2 linked regions of the Homo sapiens genome follow. The protein of the gene in region 1 purifies or fractionates together with the protein of each later gene. This does not show direct contact. Each region holds a gene or a part of one and is shown on either strand. Other genes may lie near its edges.

Region 1 (4,215 bases):
AAGCTTCAGTGACTTGGCCACGTTCACACAGCCAGGAAGTGACAGAGCTGAGCTTTGGACCCAGTTGGTCTGATTCCCAGGCCTATGCACTTTGCATTGCGCTAGGCAGATGAGCTGTGGGGCTCGAAAAGGGTGAGCTGGGGTTGGGGCTGGGGCTTACTTGAAGGTTCCCCCGAAGGCCGCGTGCATTCTGGAGACAGAGGCCTGGCAGGAGACATTGGACACTTTCATCCGTCCAGCGGGATCCCGGGAGAGCTCCAGACCAGTGCGGATGGACACACCCTCAGCTGAGGCGTTGATGTAGCCCCCATCATAGCTGCCAGGGGGGTTAATATTCACTCCAGGTAGGAGCTCAATTGAGTCTTCAGTGCCCCCATGCATCACCATACCTCTTAATAAGGTTTCACCTCTTTCCACACATCCTACCAAACCTTCCTATCAACTCGTATGAAATGCATATGCCTGTTTCTGTTACACAGATGAAGAAACGGAAACTCAGGAAGGCTAAGGGGGCTGCCCACAGCCCCACAGCACCTCCAGCCCTCCTGACCCACTCTCCACTCCCCTGAGGGTGCTGGGTCCTTACAAGAACCAGTAGAGCAGCTGTCTCCGGAAGCGCAGCCCCAAGGAGGCATTGGTGATTTGAAGCATCAGCTCCTGCTGTGGCTGGAAATCGAGCTCGGAAGATGTCAGTTGCAGCTCTGTGACCTTCACCCTACAGGAGGCCTCAGGGTCAGATCCAGGGCCAAGAAGAGGGAACTTCCCCCAACGACAGGAAATTTGTCTGCTCCCCTTTCAAGTCCAGGCCTGGGGAAGCGGGAGTGGGTGGAATGAATTCTTCCATTGTCCCTCAAGTGCCCAACTTAGACTTGGGTGGCTCAAAGTTGAACTTGGGTGGCTGAGAGAGGAGGTCTTCCTGATCCAGGTGTTAAAAATGAGCTTCACCCCATCGCTTAAAAGTCTTGTTTGTTTGTTTGCCAGGTGCGGTGGTGGCTCATGCCTGTAATCCCAGCACTTTAGGAGGCCGAGGAGGGCGGATCACTTGAGGTCAGGAGTTCGAGACCAGTCTGGCCAACATAGTGAAACCCGTCTCTACCAAAAATACAAAACTTAGCAGACCGTGGTGGCACGCGCCTGTAGTCCTAGCTACTCGGGAGGCTGAGGCAGGAAAATCGCTTGAACTCGGGATGCGGAGGTTGCAGTGAGCCAAGATCGCGCCACTGCACTCTAGCCTGGGCAACAGAACAAGACTCCCTCTCAGAAAAAAAAAAAAAAAAAGTCTTGTTTGCTTGCACCCCCTCCCCTCCCACACCCTGGGGTTGCTACACCCGGTCTTTTAATAGAGTCCGTTCACTTTGCCTCCATCACCTAAGCTCCGTCTCACATCTCAATTCCTTATTCCCCCTCCCTCATCCTAAACCATACTTAGAGCCTTCAGTTTCTCCACCCCTCCGATTAACTCCACCCCGTGCCCGAGACTCCACTCTCATCTATTGGGAAGTTCCTTGACTCCACCTTTCTGTTGTTCTTCGACCACGCCTCACATCCACTGGTCCTGCTTCCTTCTTGGCCCCCTCTACATTTTCAAGGCCACGCCCATCTGCCTGGTCCCGCCTATGATGACTGGCTTGGCCTTTATCTTTTCGGCCCCATCCGGTTTCTTAAGTCTTGCCTCATCGATTTGGCCACGCCCCATCCCACTCAGCCTCCAGTCTCCCGAGACCCTGAGATTTCTCGGGCCCCGCCTCCACCGCCGAGGCCCCGCCCCGGATCGCGAGGCCCCGCCCCCCACTTACTCAGAGATGTTGTAGTAGAAGTGGCCTTCTTTGCCCCGCAGGTCCGGAATGGTGATAGTCTCCAGCTCTTGCTCCAGAAAGCGCAGCCCCTCCTGCTTCACTGAAGCAGCAGAGAAACCCTTACTTAGCTCCCGTGCCCACTGTTGGGGCGACCCCAACCCCGTCCGCTCCCGTCCGTCCCTGTCTGCCCCTGCGCCTTACCCAGCTCCAGCGCCTTGGAGGTGACGCGGATCTTGCAGCCTGGGAACTCTGCATGTGCGCCTGCCAGCAGCGCTAGGAAGAGGGCCCCGAAGAGGGCCATGGCGAGCGGGCCTGGGGGTGGGGTGGGGTCGCAGGAGTTATCTGAGCCGCTTAAACCCATTCCTTGGACGTCCAACCATAAGTGGGAACTAGCCTGGATCGTTACCCTCCAGATAACTCTTCGGGGAACTTGGAACCAATAATCTTGCCTCCATATGGCAGATGTGGAAACTGAGGCTCAGAGAGGCGATGCGACTTGCGTTCTGGCTCCCAGAGGATTTGGGACACGGGGGAGGGGACGTTCCCAGTTCCCTCGTGCTACCGCCGCGTGATGAGTTTGGACCTCCAGGGGACCAGCCCCCACACCCCCAACAACCTCCCCTTTCCTTTAGCGGTGGGCCCATGCAGGCTTGCACGTTGCCACGGCAACGACTGCACGCGCATTCTTGGAGGGTGGCTTGCGGTCTCCTAGGCCTCGCGCCCGGGGAGGAGAGGAGGTGGCCGACCAGACCGTGGGCTCCCGGGTCTCCCGGCTCCCTCAGGTCCTAAATCTCTCCCATTAGAGATTCTGCCTGGAGCCCCCATGTTAGCGTTCTCCTTCATCGGCTCTCCTCCCCACGCCGGCTTCAGTGCACCACGCGGCTCGGCGAGGGACTGGGAACGGGATAGGGACGCGCCCCAACTCACTCAGCGGTGGAGCTGGGGGGCGGCGCGGTCACGTGGGATGGCGGGCAGCTCAGGGGATCCGGGCGACGGGGTCTGGCGGGCAGGGTTGTTCCAGCCGCCTTTATAAAGCCGGCCTCCCCGACCCCTCCTCCTCTCTGCAGCTCTCCCCTCCTCCCTTGGGGGCTGGGAGGGGACGGGGCGGGACGCTGGCAGCCGGGAGAGTGGAAAAGGCTGCACAGAGCCCCGTGACAAGCCCGGCCGCTGTCTGGACAAGTGGGAGACCCAAGCCCAGGGAGAGGGAAGGAAATGCAGGAGCCGGCCCACTCAGCCCCAACAATCCCACTTTGCTGGGACCTTGGTTCAAATTACAATTATCCATGTCTTCCTGCATGATCTTGGGCAAGTCACTTCACTTGGGTCACTGACCCTCAGTTTCTTCCTTCAGCGAAATGTGCACGATGATAGGAACTACCTCTTGGGCCTTTATTACAACCAGGTCCAGGCACAAAGTCAAGGAATATTTTTTCTTTCCCTGCCACCCACAATCATCTCGGGACCTCCTTGCCTGGCTTTGCTATGGGCCCCCCTACCTGTCTCTGTGTCACCACCTGGGGACCTTAAGGTCCCAGAGACCTTTCCCACTTGGGAAAGCAAGACTAGACAAGTGCTGTCAGCCCAGGAACATACCACACCGGCTGAAATCAGAAGGAGGTCTGCCATTTATCGTGGCTGGTGGATTGTTTTTTCTATTTTTTTTATTTTTATTTTTTGAGACGGAGTCTCGCTCTGTCCCCCAGGCTGGAGTGCAGTGGCGCGATCTCGGCTCCCTGCAAGCCCCGCCTCCCGGGTTCACGCCATTCTCCTGCCTCAGCCTCCCCAGCAGCTGGGGCTACAGGCGCACGCTGCCACGCCCGGCTAATTTTTTTTGTATTTTTAGTAGAGACGGGGTTTCACCGTGTTAGCCAGGATGGTCTCGATCTCCTGACCTTGTGATCCGCCCGCCTCGGCCTCCCAAAGTGCTGGGATTAAAGGCATGAGCCACCGCGCCCGGTCCACTGGTGGATTTTTTAATGAACCCTTGGAGCAAGGTGCTCTGAACAGCATCCCCGCCCCCACCCCCACCCCCACCTCCATCTACTGCTTACAGGGTTCCCGGACCCTAGGACAGGGCACAGAGTGGGTGCTTGCCACCTTTTTGTTGCCAAATGGACGAAAGAAAGGGGAAGCAATAATCATGTCTGCTGAGCATGTATTTAGCACCAAACACTCATCTAGGAAGGATGACTAACTCATCCTGATTTGCCTAGGACTTTCCCCATTGTGTCTTTTTTTTCTGATATAATCCACAGATTCACAAAAATAGTTCCATTTCCTTTTTTATTTAATTAATTAATTAATTTTTTTGAGACACAGTCGTGCTCTGTCACCAGGCTGCAGTGCGGTGGTGTGATCTTGGCTCACTGCAACCTCTGCCTCCTGGGTTCAAGTGATTCTCCTGCCTCAGCCTCCCAAG
Region 2 (3,500 bases), on another chromosome or scaffold:
TCTTGGCTCACTGCAACCTCTGCCTCCTGGGTTCAAGAGATTCTCCTGCCTCAGCCTCCTGAGTAGCTGGGATTACAGGCTCCCACCACCACACCTGGCTAATTTTTGTATTTTTAGTAGAGATGGGGTTTCACTATGTTGGCCAGGCTGGTCTCGAACTCCTGACCTCAAGTGATCCAGCAACCTTGACCTCCCGAAGTGCTGGGAATAGAGGTGTGAGCCACTACAACCGGCTGCAAGCAGTACTTTTAAATAAGCTTAACTAATATTTGTCTATAGAGTACTAGCATTTATGAAGTCAATACTGTACAAACGGTGTATATACTTTGGTATTTAGTTTTACCTACCGTTCCTGCAGTATCCAAGATTTCAAGCATACACTGTTGTGCATCTACTTCAACTTGCTGGTAGAAAAATTAAAATACATGTTCATTTTTTCAATGTACATAAAACTACCTTAATATACACAAAAAAGCTAATGTATCAAAAATAAGACACACAGATTTTAACAACTTTACAAACTAATATCCAGCAATACTTCAACAAAGCAGGAGGAAAAATAGCTAAGTAATCAAGATTCAAAGACCCCCAAATTGTAATCAAGTTCAAAAGCCATGTGTTCTCAAGTCAACACAGGGAAACCTACACGAACCAGTCTCAATATGGATTCTCAGCACTTAATTCTAGAGAAAAAAATAGTTTCGAAATAGCTCAAATAAACAAACAAAACCAGCAACAGTTCCAACAGTATCATAAGTAATTCTGTCTAAATTCTCCCATGATACTTTAGATATACCTCATTTCTCTAGGTAACTATATGCCCTCACCATACTGGAACAAGATTTCTGGAATTAAGGAAGCAGTGGCACAGCTATTAAATAAATTACACATATATCCCTGTTACCCCTTTCCATCTAATATTTCCTAGGGAAAAATAGGTATTTAGAATTAGATGTAGAAAGAAAAGAGTAATACTGTCTCACAGCTGGGGTGCAAAAGTTTCCAGTTTTTTTTTTGGTAGACTATGCACATGGAGGGAGGAATGGAAACACAGTATTTGTGCAACAGCGGGGCCAGGTTGGCTGCTTCATAGAGGTTGGGAAATACCTCTTTCCCTACTAAGTTAAAAATGTCTACACATTGTTTTATTGTCACATGCTGTTAGTGGACACAGGAATTCACCTTTCTATAGGCTGAGCATCCCTAATCTAAAAATCCAAAACTTGCAATGTTCCAAATCCAAAAGTTTTTGAGCCATGTGTGGAACATCACGCTACAAGTGGAAAATTCCACACATGAGCTCATGTGACCAGTCACAGTCAAAATGCAGCCAAAACTTTGTATCATGCATAAGAATATTAAAAATATTATGTAAGATTATGTGTATGAGGTGTATATGAAACCATGAATTGTTTAGATGTGGGTCCCATTCTATTTCATTATGTATATACAAATATTCTAAAATCAGAAAATAATCTGAAATCTGAAATACTTCTGGTCCCAGTTATTTCAGATAAGGGATATTCAACCAGTATTGTGAGTGGTGGCACTTTCTCAAGAGGTTAGTAAGTAGAAAGCTTAGGAAGACCTGTGTCCACCTATTTCTAGGTTAAAAAGAAGGGAGCTTGAGAGTAATCAGTCTTGCTAGGTAGGGGACTGAAAGTAACATGGGGCTACTACTTGAAATGGATGGTCTGCTTTAAAGTTTATGTGTCAAATTACAAAAAATTCTGTGAATATGTGAGAGTATGGGTGTTTATGATCCTCTTAAACTGGTAACTATGCAATGCCAGAAAGTGTAAACTTTTCCCACTAATTTTATAAATTAACTCTGCCTCCATCCTTTGTATAAAACATTCAATAATTATAAAGCTAAAATAAGTATTTATATTAAAATCAAAAGCAAAAGGCCTTCCAAAGTAATATATACCTTTCTATAAGAATCTTCTATCGTAGGATCGTATTTTTCTACAAAAATTCCTTGAACAAATTGTACAGTCTGAAAAAAAAATTAAGAAACCATTATACTTCTAAAGAAAAGAGTACATTCAATCTTTAATGTAATTGTAAACTGAGTTCACACAGGGAGTTACACCATCAATGAAAAAAAAAACCACAGCCAATACTACATTCGAATGTGTACATTTGGTAAGAAAATTACCTCAGGAAGCTGTTTATTTTTAAATAAATAATCACTATGCTCCTTATTGGGTAATTCTAAATTTAGAGATCATATATTAAAAAATTTTAAATGTCTCTGGTTTCAGTCCTTTGTTTTTTTTCTTTGAGACAGAGTCTTGCTCTGTCTCCCAGGCTGAAGTGCAGTGACGCAATTTTGGCTCACTGCAACCTCTGCCTCCCGGGTTCAGGCCATTCTCCCACATCAGCCTCCCGAGTAGCTGGGATTACAGGCATGCACCACCACACCTGGCTAATTTTTATATTTTTAGTAGAGACGGGGTTTCACTATATTGGCCAGGCTGCTCTCGAACTCCTGACCTCAGGTGATCCGCCCACCTCAGCCTCCCAAAGTGCTGGGATTACAGGCGTGAGCCACTGTGCCGGCATTGTTTCAGTCTTAAGAGCTTAAATTTGATTTTTAAATTAGAAATTGACTAATTGTTATGTATACACACATACATGCAGGATCAACTGACCTCCCCATCACTTTGGATACAAATGAAAAAGCAGTTCATTTCACATTGTATGTACTTCTCAGTTTGTTCCAAGCATGACACTTCTCAGCTAGGTGGCCTTTCTAAGTGGCCAAGATGGTTTATCTTATGAGTGAGACAGAAGGTCAATCTATTTGCTTGTGAGGCTTTGCTAAGCTCTGAACTATTCATCAAATTATTTTCCCTACGTTTTTCCTCTTTCCCAACCCTCATTACCCAGTTATGTCTTCATTCTTGCTATACCATTCCTTGATGCAGAAAACGTGCCGTTAAAAAATGTAAAGCTGGACAGTCAAAGGTAATATTTGAAGACTTTTTATAAGCTTTGATATTTTCTAACATAAAATGTACAGGGTAAGACTATTCATAAGAAGAAAGAGCAAGCCAGGCATGGTGATTTATGCCTGTAATTCCAGCACTTTGGGAGGCAAAGGTGGATTACTTGAGGCCAGGAGTTTAAGACCAGCCTAAGCAATATAGCAAGACGCCATCTCTACAAAAAATTTTAAAAATTAGCCTGGCATGGTGGCACGTGCCTGTAGTCCCAAGCATTCAGGAGGCTGAGATCACTTGAGCCCTAGCCTGGGCAACAGAGTGAGACCCTGTTTCAAAAAAATAAATAAATAAAAAGACCAAAATTTATTCCTATCTGGCTCTGAAATGCGAATGCAAAAAGACATGTATTTGTACGCTCTCAATCTCTGTGCTTAGCTCAAATTGTATTCCAGCATAACTCGTGTCATTCTGGAGTCAATGTTCCAGAGAGAATATGATCCACCCAGATATAATTAAAAGTTGAATAAAATTACAAGAAAAATATTATAT

What was found. Proteins that work in one complex are often made in the same cells at the same time.
Region 2: the proteins of PLTP (region 1) and RAP1B purify together in Homo sapiens (affinity purification with mass spectrometry; 2 studies listed by BioGRID and IntAct, with this or other methods). This does not show direct contact.

Annotation. Positions count from the first base shown.
Region 1 is NC_000020.11:45,909,356-45,913,570, forward strand, and holds the start of PLTP (phospholipid transfer protein isoform a precursor), read right to left. Parts: upstream 2,801-4,215; 5' UTR 2,724-2,800; intron 2,109-2,723; 5' UTR 2,098-2,108; coding exon 1,998-2,097; intron 1,897-1,997; coding exon 1,797-1,896; intron 1,640-1,796; exon of another isoform or gene 1,516-1,639; intron 716-1,515; coding exon 587-715; intron 317-586; coding exon 161-316; intron 1-160. UniProt on the Homo sapiens protein: Mediates the transfer of phospholipids and free cholesterol from triglyceride-rich lipoproteins (low density lipoproteins or LDL and very low density lipoproteins or VLDL) into high-density lipoproteins (HDL) as well as the exchange of phospholipids between triglyceride-rich lipoproteins themselves.
Region 2 is NC_000012.12:68,648,899-68,652,398, reverse strand, and holds part of RAP1B (ras-related protein Rap-1b isoform 1 precursor), read right to left. Parts: intron 2,000-3,500; coding exon 1,931-1,999; intron 405-1,930; coding exon 348-404; intron 1-347. UniProt on the Homo sapiens protein: GTP-binding protein that possesses intrinsic GTPase activity. Contributes to the polarizing activity of KRIT1 and CDH5 in the establishment and maintenance of correct endothelial cell polarity and vascular lumen.